Regions from separate parts of the Homo sapiens genome. Here regions 1, 2 and 4 are each linked to region 3. Evidence: fine-mapped expression QTL. A gene starts in region 3. Each other region holds a variant in brackets. All regions are shown on one strand. Distances are between the middles of the regions.

Region 1 (6,129 bases), 130 kb before region 3:
AGTTACTAAAACATCACCCCTTTAAAAAAAATTAAAACTCATCTCTTTTTTTTTTTTGAGACAGAGTCTCACTCTGTTGGCCAGGCTGGAGTGCAGTGGTACGATCTCGGCTCACTGCAAGCTCCACCTCCTGGGTTCACGCCATTCTCCTGCCTCAGCCTCCTGAGTAGCTGGGACTACAGTTGCCCATCACCACGCCCGGCTAAGTTTTTGTATCTTTAGTAGAGACTGGGTTTCACTGTGTTAGCCAGGATGGTCTCGATCTCCTGGACCTCGTGATCCGCCCGCCTCGGCCTCCCAAAATGCTGGGATTACAGGCGTGAGCCACTGCGCCTAGCCTCATCTCCCATTTTTATACTTGTTTCTATCTACTAGAAAATGAGGCTGGGTACGGCAGCTCACACCTGTAATCCCAACACTTTAGGAGGCTGAGATAGGAAGGTCATTTGAGCCCAGGAGTTCAAGACCAGCCTGGTCAACATAGCAAGACCCCATCTCTACAAAAATATAAAAAAACTAGCCAGTCATGGTGGCATGTACCTGTGGTCCCAGCTACTCAGCAGGCTGAGGCAAGAGGACTTCTTGAACCCAGGAGGTTGAGGCTGCAGTGAGCCATGTTTGTGCAACTGCACTCCAGTCTGGGCAGCAGAGTAAGACCCTGTCTCCAGAAAAAAAGGAAAAAGAAGGAAAAACTGTAGGAAAGCAGCTAAATGTCTTATTCATTGCTTACTAAACATGTCCAGAACAGAGCACATGAGTGCTAATACATATTTGTCAAATGAATTAGTAAATGAATGAAATGTATTAATATAAGTTAATGCATTACATTGTGATGTTTACGAGTAATTGTGGTTTTAGAAAGTAAATATCTAAGAAAAAATTTAAATTATGCTGTTATAGTTAAAAATAATTTTATATAATGGCAAACACTGACTTTCTATACGTTTTTACCGTTACTAAAAGTTTGAAACAAGATATTTAAACTGGTTAAATTCTTGTTTAGCATGATGTGTTCATAATATAGCTAAGTATAAATACTTTTACAATTTATGTAATAAGCTTAAAAATATAATTATTACTGAATTTTGATTTTTGAATGTTTACTAGGAAATAGGTTAGTAGTTTGAATGTTATAACTCATTAACTTTACAAAAATCATAGGGCATAACTGAGTTGATTTACATGTCACTTTAGTATTGCTGTTGCTTAGTGAGTCTGCTCTTACTTTCTCTATCCGCTTTCTTTTAGAGATGACAGTAGTATTTTTGATGGGTTGGTGGAAGAAGATGACAAGGACAAAGCGAAAAGGTAGTTTGATTAGAGATATAAAATAGTAAATGAATGAATAATAGATAAATATAATGGTAAATAAATAGTGAATAAATGATTTCCAAAAGCTATGTGCTTTAGGAGTTTAGATATATTAGCAAGGTGGAAGAACTTAGAATATTGGTATGTAGTTTATAAATTAAATATCTTCTGACCTTTTGGAAAAGTATTATGCTTTGCTTAAACAGAAACTGAATTAGAAAATCTGACTTCAAAGCAGATAATTACAGGTATCATAAAATGATTGTTTTATAAATAATCAAGTTTTTCTCAATAGCTGTTTGTTTACTGGTTACTGCTTCACATAGAATAGCGTCTTTATTCATTTAGTACATATATTTATAATAACCATGTAAGTTAACAATCACTGGAAGTATTAGATTGAATAAAACTTGTGATTTGAATGCAGTTTTTCTTATTGGCATTTTCATAAAAACATGTTTGTCAAATGTATGATTTGTAAAATTTTCTTTAGTAATAAACTGAGCTGAAAAATTATTGCCCAAATTAACTGTATATTGGTAACCTGGAAGATATTTGTTACCATCTATGTTGATAGAAGTACATGCTGTGTCATGTCTAAATTAACATTGTATTAAACTACTTGTGTAATTAAATGGATTGTTTAAAAAATGCATATTTTTCATTTCATCAGAGTATCTAGAAACAAATCTGAAAAGAAACGTAGAGATCAATTTAATGTTCTCATTAAAGAACTGGGATCCATGCTTCCTGGTAATGCTAGAAAGATGGACAAATCTACTGTTCTGCAGAAAAGCATTGATTTTTTACGAAAACATAAAGGTAAATTTTTAACTCTGTAAAATGGAACAGACTCTCAAAGCATTAGTTAGAATCTTGGCAGAGATGCTTAAGATTGGATGCTTCCTTGGCTTTTTTAAGAGAGAGAAATCAATTGCATTTTAAAAGGTTTCCTAATATGTTCATTCTTTCATTCAACAAACATTTATTCCGTGCCTACTACATGCTAAATCCTCATGATGCAGGGTAACAGTCCTGGATTTGAAGTTAAGTCAAGCCAGGGCAGACAAACATGTAAGCACATAATTACAAATGTGAGTAGTGCTTGTAAACTGTTTGCAGCAAAAACACAGGAAAGAGTATGTCAGGGAGACTTTTAAAATAGTTGATTTTTCAACTGAGTCTTTTAGATTAAGGAAGACAGCATGTCACACAAAGGGAATATGTGCAAAAGCAGAGAGGCAGGGAGACTTCATTGTCACTGAAGCATGTTTGTGTTGGAAAATTATGGGTGTATTTGAAAGAAAGGAAAAAGCTGGATAGTATAAAGTTCTTATGTGTCATTTTAAAAGGTTTCAATGTATATCTAGTAAATCAACACTATAAAATAAAGTATTTGTTAATAGAAGAAAATCATCTTGACAAATGAGTCATGGAAAGAAAATTTAAAGAATAT[T/C]AAGTATTTTGGTAACAGATAATAATAGATTTAAAAAAAACCTGTAAAAGGAAATTTCCTTTTTCAAATGCAAATGAAACTGTAAAACTCAGGACAGTTAGTAATTAGTGCCTCTGTTTTACTTCTGCCTAGCTCAGTTGGTAATGCCTTACAGGACTGGTTTATGCTCCACCACTCGTTGAAAGTGTTTTTGTTAATTTCACTAATGACATTACCTTCCTATCCCTCAATAAAGCAATAGCTTTTTCTTATACCGCATCTTCTTCTGCATCTGTACAGCACTGGAAATTTTTATCCCTCCTCCCTTGGCTTCCCTTATATTGTACTTTCTCCTCCCCTTTTCTAACTGAAACTAACTTCTTTCCTCTCTTTCTACCCTCTAAATGTGACATTCCTAAGTCTTATCCTTGTTCTCTTGCTTTCTGTACACTCTTTCTCTTGCTTATCTCATTCCATAGCTTCAGCTATTGTGTCTCTATTAACCTACCAGATTTCTATTTTTAGATGCAAACATTTTAGCCATGTATTTCCAGATAACTTCTAGATCTTTCTTTTGCATGTCCTCAAACTCAGTGCATCTAAAATTGAATTTATTTTCATTTTGTCAAGTTACCTCTTTCTCTTAACTTGCCTTTTTTCATTTTTATACCACCATCCTTTTAGTCACCTAAGACTTAAACCTGAAAAAATTTTAGGATTTTTTTTCAGCTTCCTTAGCACCATATCACAGTTGCCAAATTCTGTTGATTCTTTCGTAAATGTGTCAATATTTATTGCCACCACTATTATTACATTTTACCTCTACAGATAGTATCTCACTAACCTCAGTGCCTATTGTTAAATGGCACACTCATTGAAACCAGTCCAAAGATACTAGGAGTTCAATAAATGGTTGTTGAATGAAATGAAATGCATATATTTCCCCGTCAATAGAGGATGAATTGTGGCATTAGGTAATTTTTTTTTTCAAAATCAGATACATAATTCTCACAAAAATAGTATTTCTGTTAAGGTAAAAGGATTTTATATATGTATCATCCTAAAATAGGCCTATGTTTAATGAAACTTGATTGGATTTGTTTGTGGATTTAAATCCTTTTCCCAAATGTATATAATTGATGTGAATTTGAAAAACACAACTGTATTCCGCACATTTAGTAGCTCTACTTCTTAGTTACTCTTCATATTCCACTACAGGCATTTCTAATATGCTAACTTTTGATGAGGGACAGTATGCTGTATTTCTCTATCTGATGATAAAATCAGAATTTAGTTTATACTTCTTACTACAAATTAGAGTATATTTTGTAGAATATAGTCTATGACATAGATTTTTATTCTGCCTGCTTGTTTTAATATGTCTACATTAAAAAATAGAAAAACATTTGTTACTAGGTTTCATCATTTATGAATAGCTTTTTCATAACTAAATCTATTAGAAGTATGTAGTGAAATAAAATGGTAATAATTGTGACAAACATATGTCCCACAGCAGGGATCTCCAAATTTTTCACCATCTCTCTACTGTTGTACAAGGAGGACACTAAGAAAAATCACTGTGGGAATATTACTGTAGTAAAGTTTTTGCATAAAATATTAATTTAGTCTCTTTGATTAATTAAGATAGAGCACTTAATGTTGGGAAGAAGCTTTTTGCCCAGCAGTAGGCAGGCCTAAGGCATTCTTTGTTGAAAGCAAACCTAGTGACCTCTTTGGCCTTTTTCAGCTAATTTCCCTAGTGCTGCTCTAGACATTGCTATTTGAATGGCAAGGGAAGGAAAAGGAAAAAAAGAATTGCTTCAAAATTCTTGGAGCAAAAATCTTCTTTGGTCATTGTGTCAAATAGGAAGCAATCTCAGGCCCATCAGCAACATAACTATCAGAGTACCAAGAGAAAAACCGAAGAGACTGGTATTACCAAGAGACCAAATCCAAGGAGATAACTTGCCATGTTATCTCAAATATTTCATCATACCAAAACCTGGACCTCTTGATATCTACCCAATAAATGTTAATGCCTACGGTTGTCATCTTTAATTAGAATGGGAAGAGACAAGATAACTTGTAGGGCTTTTGTACTCCTCCGGTGGTTGGAGTATGCCACTAATATGTCAATCTGTTTACAGAAATCACTGCACAGTCAGATGCTAGTGAAATTCGACAGGACTGGAAACCTACATTCCTTAGTAATGAAGAGTTTACACAATTAATGTTAGAGGTATGTCCAGATTTAATTTTTGAAAGTTTTATTTTCCTCAAAAAAGAAATCACAGGGTGACTTAATATCCAGGTGTACCTTGGCGATATTGCGAGTTGAGTTCCAGACCACTGCAATAAAGCTAATATTTCAGTAAAATGAGTCACATGAATTGTTTTGTTTCCCTGTAGTCTATTAGGTGTGTAATAACATTATATAAAAAATACTGATCATACCTAAATTTAAAAATACTTTATTGCTAAAAAATGCTAACAATCATCTGAGCCTTCAGCAAGTCTTAATCTTTTTGCTGGTGGAAGGTATTGCCTCAGTGTCAGTGGCTACTAACTGATTAGGGTGGTGGTTGCTGAAGGTTGGGGTGGCTACGGCAATTTCTTAAAATGAGTCAGCAATGAAGTTTGCCACACTGATTCACTCTTCCTTTCAAGATTTCTCTGTAACATGCAGTGCTGTTTGATAGCATTTTACCCAGAGTAGAACTTCTTTCAAAATTACAGTCAGTACTCTCAAACCCTGCTGCTGCTCTATCAACTAAATTTATGTAATATTCTGTATCCTTTGCTGTCATGTCAACAGTATTCACATCTTCTTCAGGAGTAGAGTCGATCTCAAGAAATCACTTTGTTTACTCATCAGTGGAGCAACTCCTCATCAGTTCGGGTTTATTAGCAGATTGCAGCAATCAGTCACATCTTCAGACTCCACTTTTAATTCTAATTCTCTTGCCGTTTCTACCACATCTGCAGTTACTTCCTTCACTGACATCTTGAACCCCTCAAAGTTATCCACAAGTAATCAACTTCTTCTTAACTCTTGGTAATGTTGATATTTTGACCTTCTCCCATGAATCAGAAATCTTCTCATGCCATCTAGACGGGTGAATTCTTTCCAGAAGGTTTTCAGTTGACTTTGCCCAGATCCATCACATGAATCACTATCTATGGGAACTGTAGCCTTATGAAGTGTATTTCTTAAATAAGACTTGAAAGTCAAAATTATTCCTTGACCCATGGGCTGCAGAATGGGTATTGTGTTAGCAGGCATGAAAACAACATTAATCTCCTTGTACATCTCCATCAGCACTCTTGGGCTACCAAGTACATTGTCAGCGAGCAATAGTATTTTGAAAGAAATCTATTTTTCT
Region 2 (6,129 bases), 210 kb after region 3:
GCAATATTCTGTTTCAAAAAAAGAAAAAAAAGAAAGAAAACATTTTATTATCAAAAATGTCATGCATATACAGAGGCACAGAGAAAAGTGTCGTACATCCTTACGTAATCATTGCTAATCTTCAATAATTATAAACTCCTGGACTATCCTGTATCATGTATATTCACATCCATCCCTCTATCCATCCAAAATAATTTGAATCAAGTCCAAGATAATATCATTTTACCTGCAAATATCTATGGTTCAGCAAATAGAAGAGAATACTTCTTAACTAATTTTATGAGGCTATCATTGTCAAGATAACAAAACAGAAACAGAAAAAAAAAACTGAAGACTAATATCCCTCATTAATATAGGTTCAAAAATTTTTAACAAAACATTGGCAAATTGAATCTAGCCATATATTAAAAAATAAAAGAAAGCACATTATATCTAAGTGGTTATTTTGCCAGGAATGCAAGTTTGGCTCAACATTCAAAAATCAATCAATGCAATTTGACATAGCAGCAGACTAAAGAAGAACAACCATATTATTATTTCAATAGAGTCAGAAAAAACATTTGACTAAATTCAACATCTATTCATCATAAATTCCAATAAGTTAGAAATAGAAGGGAACTTCCTCAGCCTGATAAAAAGTATCTATGGAAAACCTAAAACATCATACTTAATGATGAAAAACTACATACTTTCTTCTCAAGCTTGGATATGGGACAAGGATGCACATTCTCATTACCTCTATTCAACATTATATTAGAGATCCTAGTCTATGCAACAAGCCAACAAATAAATAAAAGGCATACAGATTGGAAAGGAAGAACTAAAACTGTCTTTATTAATGGTAACATTATCATCTACATAGAAAATCTCCAAATCTATCAAAACCTACTAGAACTAATATGTGAGATTAGCAAGGGCACAGGTTACAAGGACAATATAAAAATTGATTATATTTCTATATAATAGCAAAAAACAATTGGAGATTAAAACTTAAAAATGGTACCATTTACAATGACATCAAAGAATATGAAATACTTTGGGATACATCTATAAAAATATGGTCAGGATTTGGATGTTGAAAACTATAAAACACTAATGACGGAAATTGTAATAAACTCCAAGAGGGCCCCCAGTAACCCCTGCCCCTGGTATGAAAGTCCTGGAATTACTGTTCTCCCACACGGAAGAGGGCTGAACTGTGAACTAATAGGATACCGTGGACCTGACAGTGTATGACTTCTGGGTCTGGGTCATAGAAGACGTGTGGCTTCCACCTTGCTACCTTGGGTCACTTGCTCTGCGGAAGGCAGCTTCCATGACATAAGGACACTCAAGTAGCCCTATAGAGATTCCCAATATTTAGTGAAGACCTGAGTTCTCTTGCCAATAGTCATGTGAGTGAGTCACACCAGAAAGGTATTCTTCAGCCCCAGTCAAGCCTTCATATGACCACATCCCTTGCTGACATCTTGACCGCAAGCTCATGAAGGACCCAGAATCAGATCAACCCAGTTAGACTGCCCTCACTGACCTGCAAAAACTGAGATAATAAATTCTCGTTATTTGAAGCCACTAGGTTTTGGAGTCATTTGTTATGCAGTAATGGAAAATGACACAGGTTTTGGTACCTGGAAGTGAGATGTTGCCATAACAAATATTAAAAATGTGAGAGCATTTCTGTTCACGTTCTCTTACCCACCTGGGCAGATGAGATATTAATAAAGACACTTCCCAACTGGAAAGAATGAGTATGGTCTTTAATGGCTCTTTTAAAATTCAAATGTTAATCATATGTTTATTATTATTTAAACTATCGTTTTCAATTATAAATTATTAATAAAAACATTCAATAATATGAAAGAATATAGAGTAATAAATGAGACCCCTTCCATCATTACCACCCCATTCTGGTCCTCAGGAGTAATTAAGTTTCATGTGAGCCCTTCAAGACTTTTCTGCTATGCATATACATATAAAAAGTATTATGTGATGGTTGAAGAAAATTTGAGTCATTCATATTTTTCTCACTGAGGAATAACCGCTGTTAGATTCTGATGGGTATGGTTTTAGTGTGTATTCTGTACACAAGCACACACATACAGATGTTTTAAAACTTTTTGAAACACAAGCTTATAAAGAATTTTTTTTTTTTTTTTTTTTTTTTTTTTGAGTCGAGTCTCCGTCGCCCAGGCTGGAGTGCAGTGGCGTGATCTTGGCTCACTGCAACCTCTGCTTCCTGGGTTCAAGCAATTCTCTGCCTCAGCTTCCCGAGTGGCTGGGATTACAGGCGCCCGCCATCATGCCCGGCTAATTTTTTTGTATTTTTAGTAGAGACGGGGTTTCACCATCTTGACCAGGCTGGTCTTAAACTCCTGACTCGTGATCCACCCACCTCGGCCTCCCAAAATGCTGGGGATTACAGACACGAGCCACCACTCCCGGCCAAGAATTTTAAAGGTGGCTGTACTCTGGGGTCCTCATTCTAGACCCTAAAGAATTCTTTTAACTGGATATGAGTTAGCTCTACATATTACTCTAGTTTATTAGAATTTGACTTTTGATTTTAGGAGTTAGGAAGGGCAAAAGACGACACCACATACTCCATTATGTTCAGCAATGTTTCTAGATCAGATTAACTGATTTAGATGATGTATATTTCTTGAAACTCAATTTTGGTGTCTTCCTCCCACTCAATCCCCCTCACGCAGTTCTTCTTTCATTCATAGTAGCGTTTCACAAAAAGCATGACTCAGAAAAAAAGGAGAGAGCTGCCTCAACAAACATAAAAAGCTTATCTTCTGTTTGAAGCTAAGACTTGGAACGCTGTAATTCTTCCTATCAAAGTGAATTATTAGTACCAGACTGTTGACTTCAGACTTTTT[TA/A]CTTCTTCTACTTTTTTTCCCAGTGGTAGGTAGAAACATTTCATCAGTCAAATGTTAAATAGCAATTTGAAATACTCAGGAATGCTTTAAGAACTTGTTATAAATGCCCTTACATGTGGAAGACTCACCCTGAATCATGCCAAACACCTTAACAGTCATTCACATGAAACAGATTTTGGGGGGTGAAATGTATTTAAAAGTATTCTTCATAATTTTGAGTTTGTTAGGAATAAATTATTTTGCTCTTATGTGTTACGGTTTTCAAATTTCTCATGTATTTTTGGTGCTCTTTGGAAAGCTCACTGTGGCTCTTGTACCCAATGGACGGAATCATCCTGAAGCTATAAAGTTTTTATTTCTAAATTTTGGAAAGATATTTCTGTTCTCATGAACAAGAGTTTAACATGATGTCTCTCTACTTTGGCTGCACAACAGAATCATAGTAGAAAACAAATAAACAACAACAACAAAAATCTATTGATCAAATCTTTCCTCCCAAAGATTTTGATTTATGATGTAGGAAGGCGCCAGCTACCAGGTTTTCAAAGCTCCCCAGACCCTGCAGATTCTAATGTGTAGCCGGGGTTGAGAACCACTGATTCAACACTAATAAATCTCAAATAAATAAATACATAAGAAAGTTAAAACTTAAAAATAAAATGATACATATCCATAAATTCCCTAAGAAAAGGAACAATATATCTAGTGCATGCGTAATACTTTTAAAACATCTAAAATGCTGGTGTTTGCATAGATAAATCATAATTACCTTGCTATTAGAAAGCAAAGTAATGAATTAGTAGAGATTGCTTGGCAATCTGTGATCTGTGCTCAAGGAGCAGGCCTCTGGCACTGCAGCAGGATACTGGGTACATAACGTGGGGTGAAACCTCATGGCATGCCGCTGTCACAGTTACATGCTGGGGGGAGAAGTTCTGTATTTCCAAGTGTGGTTGTGGAGAATCTTTTCAATGCCTCTTCAAGATGCTAATAATCAAGATTAATCTTTAATGGTTAATGGATTCCTGACTGAAGAGAAGGCACTGGATTGTATAATCTCTGAAGGGCTCTCACAGTTATATGAGTTCCATCTCAGAGGTGGGACAACATCAAAGAATCAATTACCATGCTGCCCCATAAGACTTGTTGTCACAAGCCACTCTAGATATTTAACTTCTGATGGTCTTATTCTCTTCTGATTATGAGCTGAAAGATGTTCCACCTTTAATATGGGGGATCAGGTCAGGAAGAAAAGTATTGAGGCTAAGTGTATAGTTTGGGATGGAAATATGAGATGGATTGATTCTTAAATATATTAGTCTAGAATTCTAGCCAAGAGATGGTCAGAATTTGAATGGTCAATTTAATGTAAGAACAAACCATAAAGGACAGATACATTAAAAAAGAATTGGCAAGACTGAGTGGTAGTCTGAATGGGTGGGCTGAAAGATAAGTAGCTTTTTACTGTTTTGCCAACAGGTACATTTTATTGAGATTAGTAAATACAACCAGCATAAGAGTCAGCTTTGGAGTGTAGACTTTGGAAACACATTGCTTTGGCTCAAGTCCTGGCTCCTCCATACACAAGCTGCTTAGGATTGGGTAAGTTACTTAACCTCCCTCAGCCCTAATTTCTGCATCTGTGAAATGTGTAGCCTGATGGTGAGAATTAAGGGAGTCAACACACGTAAAATGCTTACAACAGGGCCTGACACATGATAACTCAATACATGTTAGTCATTATTATGATGATACTGTTGGATGCAGAAAAAACTATTTCAGAAGAAGAATGAAAATCTTGTCATCAATTATTTGGAAGTTTAGAGTAAACGATTATGTAAGCCACACTAAACTTGTCTTTCATCTTACAATATAATGAGAGAGACAGACACACATACTCAAATAAACCTGTTATAAGGCATGATATCCTTTATGTCACAACAGATATTCTTGGACCGTGGGGAATATAATTGTCATTGATTAGCTGTCTCTTTAACATCCATTTCCCCCTGCTTCCTAGAAAAATATTTAGAATTTTTTGAGTAATAGTCCCTTTTCTATTTTAATTATGTAGTTTGGTGTTATTGAGCCTATTCTTAATTGCAAAGGTGGACTCTGACATAGGCTATCAGATCCTTCCTGCTTCTGGTAATTGGTTTAGGGATAAGGCAATGAGATTTAAGATGTGCTTAGGTCAAAGGATCAAAGGATCTTCCCTTTTATTTCTCAAGAGACACTGTCTTTCTGTGGACAGTGTGGGGTGAGAATGTGTAGTCATGTTTTTTTTTTCTATTATGAGGACAGCCTGAAGGCAGAATTGAGAAAATCACAGAGAAAAACAGCAGGATGACACAATGAGACTCTGGAAAAAACTGTCTGAAGCCAGCCCATAACTTACAACAACATGATCCTATACATTCAGGCCAAATTGAGTTGGTTTTCCTGTTTCTTACAACTTAAGGAATCCTTACTCTTGCAGGCATGGAGAGAGTAAGTCAGATGGGGAGATGGGAATGAGTAGGGATTGCAGAGACTTCCTGGGGCCTCTTTTTAAAGAGGGGCCAACTACGTATGGGCAGATATTGGAATAAAGCACATTCAAGGCATACAGTAAGCAAGAGACAAAAAAGTGTAATGCATTTTCTGGAGGTGGCCACTGAAATCTAGAAAGTTGGACTAAGAGTATGTCCACGGTATACCGGGAGGTAAGTTGTATAAATAGGAAGCAGCAAAGAACAAAACCCTTAAATACAAGGCTTGGGATTTGGGGCTTTATGCTATGTACAGAGGTCAACTGTCCAAGGTGAAGGACAGATGAACTTTGTGTTTTAGGAAGATAACTTTGGCAGCAGAGTGATGAGTGGACTGGAATATTCCAGGAAAAAGGCAAACTGGTCACGAGTCAGGGCAGTCTGATGAATGAAAATAGGAGATGGATATGAGGGAAGTAAAGAATGTAGACAAAATTGGATTTGAGAGGAAAAGAAAAGGCAGGGGGATATCATGGAATGTAGTATAAGCATCTAGAGGGACTTCGAGCTTAAGAAGGCTGAAGGAGGCAGGGTGGGTATAAACAGACAAAGAATTCAGTTTTTGGCACTTTGAATTTAAGAAATTGGTGGAACATACACAGAGATGTCCAGGAAGAATTAGAGATTAGAGGCTGGAGCTAGGGTAGAAAATCAGAGTTGGAGAGCACAATTTTTCAAGTTTTCTCCATAAGGAAGATAGTCAAAGGCAAAAGAG
Region 3 (6,129 bases):
GATACATGTTCGAGGTCACCTGTTTATTCAGAGTTCCTGGGAAATCAAAACTCTAGGAACCAAAAGGAAAACAAAAAAAAGCAACCATCACCTTATTTAAAAAAAAAAAAAATCTACCAGACAGGAGTCATGGAAACAAACATTCCAAGAACCAATTTCAGGTTTTACTCTTGCCTCCGTAGGAAAGAAAAAAATAATCCCAAACAAAATTACCTACATACTGCCTTATTTGCAGAAATGGGATTTACAACTGCCTATTTCTAACTGTAGCAATTATGAACTTATTTTCATTTTTAAGAGTACTGCTAGAGGGCCGGGTGCAGTGGCTCATGCCTGTAATCCCAGCATTTTGGGAGGCCAAGGTGGGTGGATCACTTGAGGTCACGAGTTCAAGACCAGCCTAGCCAAAATGTTGAAACCCCGTCTCCACTAAAAAATACAAAAATTAGCCAGGCATGGTGGTGTGCACCTCTAGTCCCAGCTACTCAGGAGACTGAGGGAGGAGAATTGCTTGAACCCAGGAGGCAGAGGTTGCAGTGAGCTAAGACTGAGCCACTACGTTCCAGCCTGGGCGACAGAGCGAGACTCCATCTCAAAAAAACAAAACAAAAGAGTACTACTAGATTTTGCACAGGAAAAATATTCACATATAAGTATCAAGGTTAACGTTACCAAATGATTTTAAATTTGGATTAACCAAGATATTTACTAAATGCTACCATCTGGGATAAATCCATTCTCACTTAATCTTTCACACAGATTGAGCTTCACATGGTACAAGATATTTCCCACGAAGTATACCAGAGGATAAGAGCTTGGGATTTAAATTCCAACAGGCAGGGTTCAGGTACCACCCTTGCTAGTACTAGCATCACTGCACAACTGCTATCTTCTAAGCTTGAGTCTGCATGTGTGTAAATGGGAATAATGACAATAACATCTCCCTCACAGGTCCACTGTGAGGATTAAATGAGGAAAGGCACGTACTCCTTAGTAGTCATCACATAATCATATATGTAAACATTTAGTCAATGGTGGTTACTATTTATAAACCAGTAAAATCTCTCCCACATGCTCCTTAGCCATTAGCACATTTTTTTAAATGATAAAAGTGATAAGCATCTTGTGAATGAAGACATTTTGGAAAATACAGAGACGTATAAAAAAGAGGCCATAGACTCTTACCTCCACCCAACTCTAATTATCTGCCTATTTCATATAAACAGGGGTATAAAATTTAAAAAGAGAGTAATACATGTATTAATTTTTTGGAGACACTGCCAGTTTTGATGCAAGTTATCTTTTTTTTGTCACAATAAAAATGCCTTTCATTATTGGTCTGGATGTTTTGTACCTTCTCCAGTACTAAAAGAAATGTCTGTTTAAATTTAGAGAAGGAGGGGAAGGGCACTTGAACACTATGGGAGGTTCTACTGTAGAATTCTGGAAGAAGAAAAAGGTGTAAATTATTTCACAATAGAGTAGAAATTACAGGAAGTCCAAACAGAACCAACTGTTACAGTAATGAATAAGGAAAAGGTACCAAGTCTCTTTCTTGGCTGTCATGTAATAACAGACTTGAGTTGCAACAGCTGGGGTGTATGCAAGTTCAGGGGATGATTTTACATGTGCCATTTAATCCAGGTACACTAGACTAGTACCTTTCTCAAAACTCAGAAAATAAATTGCTGTGAAGTATAAAAGGATTCAACCCTGATTACAAATGGGATAACAGGTAATTTTTGCTTAAAAAGAGCCTCTAGGAAACAGGAGGTTTGATCAATTTGTTTCATGTACTTCTACTTCTTCCCTTTAGGGTGCCTCAGAATGACCTAGTTCTCCCTTCTCTGTGTTAACACATGACACATCTTTCTCTGACAGTCAAAATTCGCAGATTATCCAAGTTTTAGAAGCCAAATTATACTTGTCCCTTTGTTGCCTGCGGACCTGGGGCACTGCCTATGAGTGTTTCAAGCGACAACCCAGATGTTTTTAACCTTTAAAAAAAAATTTTTTTTAAATACAAGGTATTTCTCTGTTGCCCAGGCTAGAGTGCAGTGCCATGATTATAGCCCACTGCAGTCTCCAATGCCTGATCTCAGATGATCTTCCTGCCTTCATTCCAAGTAGCTGGCACTACAGGCACACGCCACCAAGCCCTGCCAATTTTTTGTATTTTCAGGAGAGACGGAGTCTCACTATATTTCCCAGCCTGGTCTCGAACTCCTGAACTCAAGCGATCCGCCTGCCTCAGCCTCCTAAAGTGCTGGGATTACAGGCGTGAGCCACTGCGCCCGGCCTAAGATGCATCTTAAGGGGCACTGTTCTATTTCTACCATCTCGAATAGTATTTGGCCAACTCTTTCCAGCTATGTCCTGAATTTAAAGTGGAAAAAGGAGAAGAAGAAAATTATAACAGGTCTCTATTTAAAACCTGACGATTTAATCCTTCGCTGAACTGGGTTACAGAATTTTTCGAAAGTCAAATGGAGCTTCGGGACGGGCCTGCCTATGACCTGCACCTTGGGCCACCTTCCCCAGGGGCACCTGCCAAGGTGCAGGTTAGGGCGACTCAGTCCTTTGTCCCCACTGCAAGGGTTGGGAAGAGAAACGGGGGAAGCCGAGGCCGAAGAGCCGGCCTAACTTCATTTCCACAAATGATTCCCGGTGACCTCAAGTTAGAGTATGAGCCACTGGAGTGCAGGGTACGGGAAAAAGGAGAATTTGGGGCAAGGGGCACTTCAATTTGCCGCCTAAATTCGCATGACCAGGCCTAAATTCGGATGCGTTGCCATTTCCCACAGGGAAAGGCTCCGTGCGGCTACCAGTTCACATTCCTCCAGCTGAGTGCAAGCGGCTCCGCTCTCCCTCGGCGTCCGCGGACACCCGGGCACTGCTCCCCGGAGCCACGCAGCAGCCGGGGCATGGCCGGGGCCAGGCCGAGGGAGCGCCGTGCTGCGCCCGGGAACCCGCCAGGGCCTCCCAGGCCGGGTCCCGCCTCTGCTGCCCCCTGCTGGCTGCCCGCGAGCCGGGGCGCCCCGAACTCTCAGCGCCTTGACCACCGCGGCTCGGGACCGGGGCGCGGTTACCTCTTGGGGACATCAAAGGCTCGGCAGGCGGCGGGGCGCGACGGCTCCCCACACTTGGTTTTCCCATAGCGGATCAGGTCCTGGAAGATCGCGCAGCCCGGGAGCAGGCCGGGCGGCAGGAGCTGCAGCAGTAGGGTCAGCAGGAAGGCGGCGGTCAGCGTGAGCCACACCGCGCGCAGCGGGTTCAGCGCCGAGTGCTCGGCCTCCGCCCAGGGAGCCATGGCCCGCGTGCCCGCCTTCCGCGCTGCTGGCGCCCCCACCGCCCGCTAGCCCGCGGAAGAGCGGCCACTAGCGCGCGGCGCACCGGTCTCAGCCTAGCGGGACGTCGGTGACGCGGCGCGGGGCGGGGACGCGCAGAGCCCCTCCCGGACTCGCCGCTCAGCCGCGGAGGTCCTTGGTCCTGGTCGCGCTGGCGCTGGGTGGTCGCTCGCAGTCCCTAATCTGGGCATGGGGATTCTTAGATGGAGCTCCAGAATATGATTCATCAGAAGCAAAGACGCAAAACAGACGAGACCACGTGTCTGCCACTCTTATCAACATTATCTCCAAAGCAAAAAATGGAAACCTTACATGTTGCATTTTAGTTTATTTAGCTAAATTATGATACACTGACATGTTAGAATATCATGCAGTCATTGAGAATTATTATGACGAGTGTAGAAACAGGGAAAGCTGTTTAGGAAACAATATGTGAAGTGAAAAACAAAACCAACCATAAAAATACATAGCTATGATTGCAAACAACTATATTAATATGAATGTGTGTATATATGGATAAAGAAGGCAGATCACACCCAAAAATGAATAATTATGTTAGGATGCTGGAAATGTGTTGGATATGTGTATAATGTAAACATGTAGACAAGTAATTGCACATAATAATAAAAATCATAGTGGTAAAAACTGTGTTTAAAAAACAGCAGTCGCTTACCAATAGGGTTCCAATCCTTAGAAGCAAAGTTTTTAAATTCCATCAGCTGTTTCCTGTAACATTTATCTCAGGTAGTGACAATGCTATTTATTGACTCACTGATTTTAAACAACACTGATTTTATTTACTATAAGTGAAAATCTAGCTCTTTTAAGTATTTAAAAGTCTTTAAAATGTTAATTCTGAAGTATTGTATGCCTACTGTATGACAGGCATCATTTTGGATACTGAGGACAGAGGGGTTTACAAGATAATTGTCACTGCTTATTTGGAGCTTACATTTTTGAGATTGGGTGGTGGGTGAGAAGTGGAAGAGGGGAGAGGTAGCCAACTCATCACCCTTACCCCAATGAGATACCCGATATGTGTGTTGAATAAACATCAGGGTGGGTAGGTTAGTGGGACTTTGGACTGTTAAATGAGCAAGCTTTTAAAGTTTTCTTCTTTGTGCAAAAGACACCTAAGGCTTTACCCGTCCTTTGACAGCCAGGTGATTAAGGATGGTTAAATTGGCATTCTAGCTAGGACAATGAGGCCTTATTGAGTGATCCTGGATCTCTTTTGCGGGAGTCACCCTTTCACTGTTTCTTTCTTTTCTTTTTTTTTTTTTTGAGATGGAGTCTCGCTTTGTCGCCCAGGCTGGAGTGCAGTGGCCTGATCTCTGCTCACTGCAAGCTCTGCCTCCCAGGTTCACACCATTCTCCTACCTCAGCCTCCCGAATAGCTGGGACTACAGGTGCCCCCCCAACCACGCCTGGCTTTTTTTTTTTTTTTTTTTTTGTATTTTTAGTGGAGATGGGGTTTCACTGTGTTAGCCAGGATGGTCTTGATCTCCTGACCTCGTGATCCATCTGCCTCGGCCTCCCAAAGTGCTGGGATTACAAGCATGAGCCAATGCTCCTGGCACCCCTTCACTGTTTCTTTATTTTTCTTAGGTTAACTCTCTGTAAATGCAGCTGGTCTGTCCATGATCTTTTTCTTTTCAGAGAAGCTACTTGTAAGTGCATTGCAGGGACTCAGTTTCCTGGGTAGGAGTTTCTCTTACAGTTGTCTGACCTGGGGCAAGATTGAAAACAAGATAAGTGTGTGTGTATGTGTGAGTGTGTGTGTAGTGGAAACAGGAAGGGTTGAGGAGGCTGGAGGGGAAAATCATCCCATATATTTTTTAGATTTTTTTTTTTGAGACCGAGTTTCACTCTTGTTGCCCGGGCTGGAGTGCAATGGCACGATCTTGGCTCACCGTGACCTCTGCCTCCTGGGTTCAAGCTATTCTGCCTCAGCCTCCCGAGTAGCTGGGATTACAGGCATGTGACACCACACCAGGCTAATTTTGTATTATTAGTAGAGACGGGGTTTCTCCATGTTGGTCAGGCTGGTCTCAAACTCCCGACCTCAGGTGATCCGCTTGCCTCGGCCTCCCAAAGTGCTGAGATTACAGGCGTGAGCCACCCTGCCTGGCTATTTTTTAGATTTTAATCAGCATGCACAGTTTATATTCAGAGAAGCCCCCTGTAGATGGCAGTGGCTGAACAGAAAGCCGTAAGTTAAACCCTCCTGGGAGTATTTGTAAATGTAAATCCTTACTGGAGTGAGTTAGTTCAAAAGTGGAATACCAGGCTAACATCTGTTAGAAAGATCATTGCTAATAAATATCAGTGAGCATTTTTGTCTTTCTTCATTTAATTAACTGCACTATATGTTCAACAAACTACTGGTATTGCCTGCAGTAAACGGCAAAGCCATTTTTCCAGTTGCTCAGGCCAAAAACCCTAAACTCAACCTTGATTCCTGTCTTTCTCTCATAGCCTAAATGCAATCTGTCAGCAAATCCTGTTGGCTCTACCTTCAAAATATGAATCTAAATTCAATTATCCTTAGAGTCAGTGCTTTAAGTCCCTAGCCATCTCAATAAATCAGAAAAAGAAATAAAACATATAAGGACTGCTAAGTAAGAAATAACGCTGTCATTATTTGATGATTATATGAAACTCCAATAATAGAAACTCCAATGGCATCCACAGATAAGGTATCAGAACTAGTAGGCAGTTTGGGGAGGTTGCTGGAGATAAAAATCTGTTCATAAATATTATTTCTATTTCCCAGCAACAA
Region 4 (6,129 bases), 110 kb before region 3:
GGAAGACGTGAGCAAATTTAAAAGTAGATAGTAAGGACCCTTGGCCAGGTGCAGTGGCTCTCGCCTATAATCCCTCCACTTTGAGGCAGGAGGATTGCTTGAGCCTAGAAGCTTGCAACCAGCCTGGGCAACATAGTGAGACCCCATTTCTATAAAAAATTAAAAATTAGCCAGGCATGGTGGCTCACACCTGTAGTCTTGCGTACTTGGGAGGCTGAGGCAGGGGGCTCACTTGAGCCCAGGAGTTCAATGCCACAGTGAGCAGTGATCATGCCACTGCACTCCAGCCTGGGTGACAAATCAAGACCCTGTCTCAAAAAAAAGAAGAAAGTAAGGACCCAAAGGTGTAGATGCTAAAGGAATAAGGAACAGTGATGTGGCCCGGGTCCTAGAGAAAATAGGAAAGACTATAAATGGTAGAGATGGAAGGATTAGCTTTAGAATGTGAAGCAAAACTTTCCTTTGAAAGTGAGTAAAGAATGAAAAGGATGAGTAGCTAAAAATAGGGAAACATTAAGTTGTTTGCACCAGAAAATCTATTTTTTCTATTAAAGACAAAGTGAGATCCTCTCCTGAAGGTGCTCTACTTTTATGAACTAAATGTCATTGACGACTTCTGTTGGGGAAAATAATGGTTGTAAACTTACACAACTTTTATGATCTTACTTTATGTGGTATATCAATCATTGTTTTATATCAGAAATATGTGATTTTTAAAATCTCTTTTATTTCAGCAAAAAATCAGTTAGAATTCTGTTGTCACATGCTGCGAGGAACAATAGACCCAAAGGAGCCATCTACCTATGAATATGTAAAATTTATAGGAAATTTCAAATCTTTAAACAGTGGTGAGTTAAAATGCTTCTCTCACAATGTGTTTTAACTTGTTATTTTTCTGTGCTCTTAAAGACATAGATGTTTGAATATCAGTGACAATTAGGTTTTGCTGGCATAACTGATGATACATATTTCCCTATTGTTTTAGTATCCTCTTCAGCACACAATGGTTTTGAAGGAACTATACAACGCACACATAGGCCATCTTATGAAGATAGAGTTTGTTTTGTAGCTACTGTCAGGTTAGCTACACCTCAGTTCATCAAGGTATGTTTTTAATTTTATTTCCCAAAGGGGATTTCAGTTCATATGCTGAGAGCTGCCTGAAACTTCCTGCAGACATTGAGGTGGAATGGCTATGAGTCATTAAATATGCATGATAATATTTTTGAAACGATGAGTTATCAAGACACTCATTAAATTGTATAACTAATTTTTTAGTATATATCCTTTGCAGTTAACCAGTGATTATTATATATCAATATTGCCCTACTTTTGTGGAAGATTTTAGGATCCTTTTGTGTGTTGTTCATTATCTCTATTAAAAGGGAAAGTCCAAAAATCTAGGTTTTTGGAATCTTTATTTTTAGAAGGTAACTTTTAAATTTTTATTTGAAATGTACAAGTGGCTCTTTGCCACATATAACTTACCTTTTCAAATGTAAAATTAGGTATTTTATTTTTATTTCCTGGACCCAACAAACAGATGACAAGTAGGGAAGTGGGAAAGTGAAAGAGTTAACCACTAGAAACTGACTGGAAAGAGGCAGCCAGGCTAAGATTTAAAATTTCGGCGGGGCCAGGCGAGGTGACTCATGCCTGTAATCCCAGCACTTTGGGAGAGCAAGGCGAGAGGATTGCCTGAGCCCAGTAGTTTGAGACCAGCCTGGGCAACGTGACAAGACCCCATCTCTACAAAAAATACAAAAAATTAGCCAGGCATGGTGTTACACACCTGTGGTCTCAGTTACTCAGGAGGCTGAGGCAGGAGGATCATTTGAGCCCAGGAGGTCGAGGCTGCAGTGAACTGTGTTTGCATTTTATTTTGAGACAGAGTCTGACTCTGTCTCAAATAAATTTGGGGGGACATCATAGTATAGGACAAAGTACTGAATTAATAGAAGATCTTAAGCCAGTCTTGCTTGGTTTGTTTTGATCTTATGAAATAATAGTTGTTAACATTTGAGTGCTTACTACATGCTGTGTATTTTATATGCATTATCTCATTAATTCTTATGACAACCCTATAAGTTAGATGCCATTACGATCCCTCATTTTACATTATAAGGAAACAGGCTTAGGGAAGTTAAGTGACTTGCCCAAAGTCTCAGCTATTAGTGATGAAACTGGGACTTGATTCTATTAATTAATAATTGTTTTTTTCTCAAAGCCCAAGCTCTCAACTATTACAGAGTGCTGCAGGTCATTCAGGGACACAGAGGCAGGATGGAATACATTGTTTAGTATGACTAGAGTCTAGGGTTAGTGTGTGGAGGGGGAAGAGATAGTGGGAGGTAAGGCTAGAAAAGTAATCAGAAACCAGAAATAAAATTTGTTTCTTTCTTGTTTATTTCTCCATGCTGAAGAGAGTTTAGCACAAGGAACCACTGAAGGTTTTTTAGCAGGGAAGTCATATAATATTTGAGTATTGGTAAGGTAATTGTGGCCCTAGAAGAGAAGATGAGTTGAAGGACAGGGAGACTGGTGAACACTGTAGCAAATCAGTGA[T/C]GGCAGGGGTCTAAACCAATGCACTCAAGATGGATGAGATAGAATTGATTTTTAAAATACTTAGATGAAATGGAAAAGATTTAGTAATGGCCACTTAGATGATGAAAGGTAAAAATGAAAGAGTATGTTTTTTTAACTATCAGATTTCTAGACACTGGCCACTACACATGTATAGAATAATACGGAAAATTGTGTGATTGGGTGTGAGGAGTAAAGCAGTTAGTTTATTTTAGGACATATTGAATTTGAGATGTATGAGGACATTCAGATATTTGGAAATATGGAACTGTAATTCAGGAGAGAGGTCTGAATTTTGAATAAGCGTTTATAGGCATGTGTGAATGGAAAATGTGTAGAGTGAGAAGTACCCACCCAAAAGCTTGCATCTAAAGGTTATTTATTACCACATTCTTTAGTACTGGAAAATTAAAATATATTAACTTGTTTAGAAGGGCCTGCATTTTGGCTTATGCCTAGAATCCCAGCACTTTGGGAGGCTGTGGTGGGCAGGTTGCTTGAGCCCAGGAGTTGAAGACCAGCCTAGACAACATAGACCCCCCACCTCTACAAATAAAAATACAAAAATTAGCCGGGCGTGGTGGTGCATCCCTATAGTCCCAGCTACTTGGGAAGCTGAGGCAGGAGGATCGCTTGAGCCTAGGATGTTGAGGCTGCAGTGAACTGAGATCACACCACTGTACTTCAGGCTGAGTGACAGAGTGAGACCCTGTGTCAAACAAAGAAATAGGTAAATATATACATACATAGAAACAACTAACTTGTTTAGGAAAAGTTTATCTAGTAATGACTATTTATTTATGTATTTATTTAACCTCCACCTCCTGGGTTCAAGTGATCCTGCTGCCTCAGCCTGCCGAATAGCTGGGATTACAGGTGCCCGCCACCGTGCCCTGCTATTTTTTGTATTTTTAGTAGAAATCGGGTTTCACCATGTTGGCCAGGCTGGTCTCAAACTCCTGACCTAAGTGATTTGCCCACCTCAGCCTCCCAAAGTGCTGGGATTACAGGTGTGAGCCACTGCACCTGGCCATGACTTATTTTTATATGTAGCAATATTTAATATTCTTAAGGACACAAAGTATTTATAAATTTTAATTATTTATTTGTAGGAAATGTGCACTGTTGAAGAACCCAATGAAGAGTTTACATCTAGACATAGTTTAGAATGGAAGTTTCTGTTTCTAGATCACAGGTAATTCCATTTTTAAATTCCATGAAAAGGTAATAGTCATGTTATATAATTCTTGAAATTAATGGATCAAGGGCAAACTTTTTTTTAAATTAGGACTTTGAAACCTGTTCCCATTTTTTGAAAAATAAAGCCCCCCCCCCAAAGTTTATTTCTAGTTGAAATATTTCTTATTATGGAAAAACTTATAATAATGATTGTTTTCTGTGTAATTTAGGGCACCACCCATAATAGGGTATTTGCCATTTGAAGTTCTGGGAACATCAGGCTATGATTACTATCATGTGGATGACCTAGAAAATTTGGCAAAATGTCATGAGCACTGTAAGTAGATTTTAACATTTCTGGTGATAATAACTGTTTTATAAGCAGAAGTCCTGTCCTGAAATGATAGGTAGTAAGACACAGATTTATAATCATTTTCATATTTTTGAAATATGCTAAAAGATTTTGCTTTATGTATATAACCAATGTAGTAGGAATCATAGATCAAGTTTAAACTTGTTCCTATTTTTATAATAAGTAGAATTTTATAATATTGCATCTAATACACCTTGTTCTGAAGCACGTGAGCTCTATATCTGGAGTAAGAGAAGTAGATTCCTTTGAAAATTGTAATACTTCAAACTTTTGGAGTATTGTTTCCTAAATTTTGATTTTGAGGCATGTGAATCTTTTCAGGAGCTAGGTACATGTCTGGAAAATCTGTCTTAGAAAGCTCATAGTAAGTGCTTGGTGTTATCTGCTTATTATTGTTGTTAGAGCAGGAGCATTATCATCCTTTGTGCCAGGCACTGTTCTAAACACTTTACATCTATTATCTTCATTATTCTCCATCACAGTTCTAAAAGGTAGATGCTATTATTATCTTCATGAGTAAGCTGAGAACACAGTAAGGCTAAGTAATTCACCCATAATTTCATAGCTCATTGGTGGCAGAGACAGGATTGGAGCCTAGGCCTACTCTTTTTATCACATGTATTTATTTTAGAAGTTTGTTTTAATGATGAGGTTTGCCTTAATGATATGTTTTATTTGCTTCTCTGATCCTCCTCCCAGATGCTTACCATCTTGAGTGTTCACTAAAGCTTAACTAGATATTTTAGACCTTTTCATGACGTTTTATGCTGCTGTTATAAACCTCACTGTATGAAAATGAAGCAGGTTGTATAATAGCATTAACTCTATGGAAAATTTTCAGAGTAAAGTCATTTCAGCACAAAAGATGTGGGCATTAAGCACCATGATGTTGTCTAAAGAGCTGATACCTCTATTAACTAGCTGGGTAACTTTGGACAGCAAGTTTGTTTGTAGACCTTGATTTCCTCCTTAGAGAGTGAGAGGCGGTGGCGGCGGGGTTGGGGGGTGGGGGGACAGATTGAGAGATTCTTGACTAGCATTTTCTAAGGTTTGTTCCACCGAATGTTGGTCCATAAAAAAAGACTTTATAGTCAAGGAAGATGGGGAAACACTTCATAATCCCTCAGAGAATCTGCACATGCATTAGCATACTCTAGGTTTTGAGAAAACTGAAGACACCTATTTAACAAAAAGTTTCCCAAATTAATTTAACTACAAACCCTTTTTTTTTTTTTTTTTTTTTTTTTGGGATGGAGTCCTGCTTTGTCACCCAGGCTGGAGTGCAGTGGCGTGTCTCAGCTCACTGCAGCCTCCACCTCCCGGGTTCAAGTGATTCTCTTGCCTCAGCCTCGTGAGTAGCTGGGATTACAGGCACGTACCACCATGCCTGGCTAATTTTTGTATTTTCAGTAGAGATGGGGTTTCACTATGTGAGCCAGGGTGGTCTCAAACTCCTGACCTCAAGTGATCCTCCCACCTCTGCTTCCTAAAGTACTGAGATTACAGGCGTGAGCCACCACACCTGGCCCAAAACCCATTTTTTTGTTTAATATCTGTTAAAACGCTTCAGAACTTAAAATCCACAGCACATGTTTTGGCAGTTACTGCACTCAGTTACTTCAGACTCAGTTACTTTGATTTTGGTTAGTTAAGGTTTAAAATTAAATGCTTCAAAGATTCTGTGCCTGCCAGAGTAGTTAGGAGAAAAAACTCAGGGGTGATTATTTATTGTTATTACCCTCTGTATATCTAGGCAGGAGGAAGTCAGCAGTGTGAATTCTTAAGTATTAATTGTGTATGGAAAGATTGTAAGATCAGCAGTGACTAGCTGTGAATTGGGCACTGTAGATCTGATAATTGCTTGGGACCTTAAACTAGCTCTAAAGAATAACATTTTCATATTGACATATATGTTATCAAAAGGCCAGAAAAATAATAGTATGTGTAAACTTAAATGTAAATGATAGCTTTTGGTTAAAAAACAATCTTTATAT

Direction of the effects. Positions count from the first base shown, and alleles are read on the strand shown. Sizes are in standard deviations (SD) of each study's normalised expression. Not every link is listed here.
For the expression in anterior cingulate cortex of the gene that starts at base 3,405 in region 3, C is the high allele of the variant in region 4 and T is the other (small effect, 0.38 SD a copy in GTEx).

What was found. PIP is the estimated chance that this variant, and not a neighbour inherited with it, causes the effect.
Region 1: its variant is fine-mapped to the expression of SRD5A3 in whole blood (TOPMed, PIP above 0.99). The same link has a PIP of 0.9 or more in T cells, blood mononuclear cells, lung, monocytes and nasal epithelium.
Region 2: its variant is fine-mapped to the expression of SRD5A3 in spinal cord (GTEx, PIP above 0.99).
Region 4: its variant is fine-mapped to the expression of SRD5A3 in anterior cingulate cortex (GTEx, PIP above 0.99).

The regions. Positions count from the first base shown.
Region 1 is chr4:55,474,819-55,480,947 of GRCh38, reverse strand. CLOCK (clock circadian regulator) reads left to right here. Exons shown (of 23, transcript NM_004898.4): 5 at 1,249-1,308; 6 at 1,985-2,133; 7 at 4,894-4,985. Among named protein-coding and RNA genes, the nearest start is that of CLOCK, 69 kb to the left of the region's middle. The variant T/C (reference allele first, on the strand shown) is at 2,768.
Region 2 is chr4:55,135,222-55,141,350 of GRCh38, reverse strand. No RefSeq gene overlaps it. Among named protein-coding and RNA genes, the nearest start is that of KDR, 13 kb to the right of the region's middle. The variant TA/A (reference allele first, on the strand shown) is at 2,883.
Region 3 is chr4:55,343,518-55,349,646 of GRCh38, reverse strand. It overlaps SRD5A3 (steroid 5 alpha-reductase 3), which reads right to left and starts at 3,405. Exons shown (of 5, transcript NM_024592.5): 1 at 3,090-3,405. The coding sequence starts at 3,310. RefSeq lists silencers at 2,823-3,092, 3,303-3,472 and an enhancer at 2,924-3,684.
Region 4 is chr4:55,453,867-55,459,995 of GRCh38, reverse strand. CLOCK (clock circadian regulator) reads left to right here. Exons shown (of 23, transcript NM_004898.4): 10 at 735-848; 11 at 986-1,104; 12 at 3,696-3,778; 13 at 3,993-4,099. Among named protein-coding and RNA genes, the nearest start is that of TMEM165, 61 kb to the right of the region's middle. The variant T/C (reference allele first, on the strand shown) is at 2,566.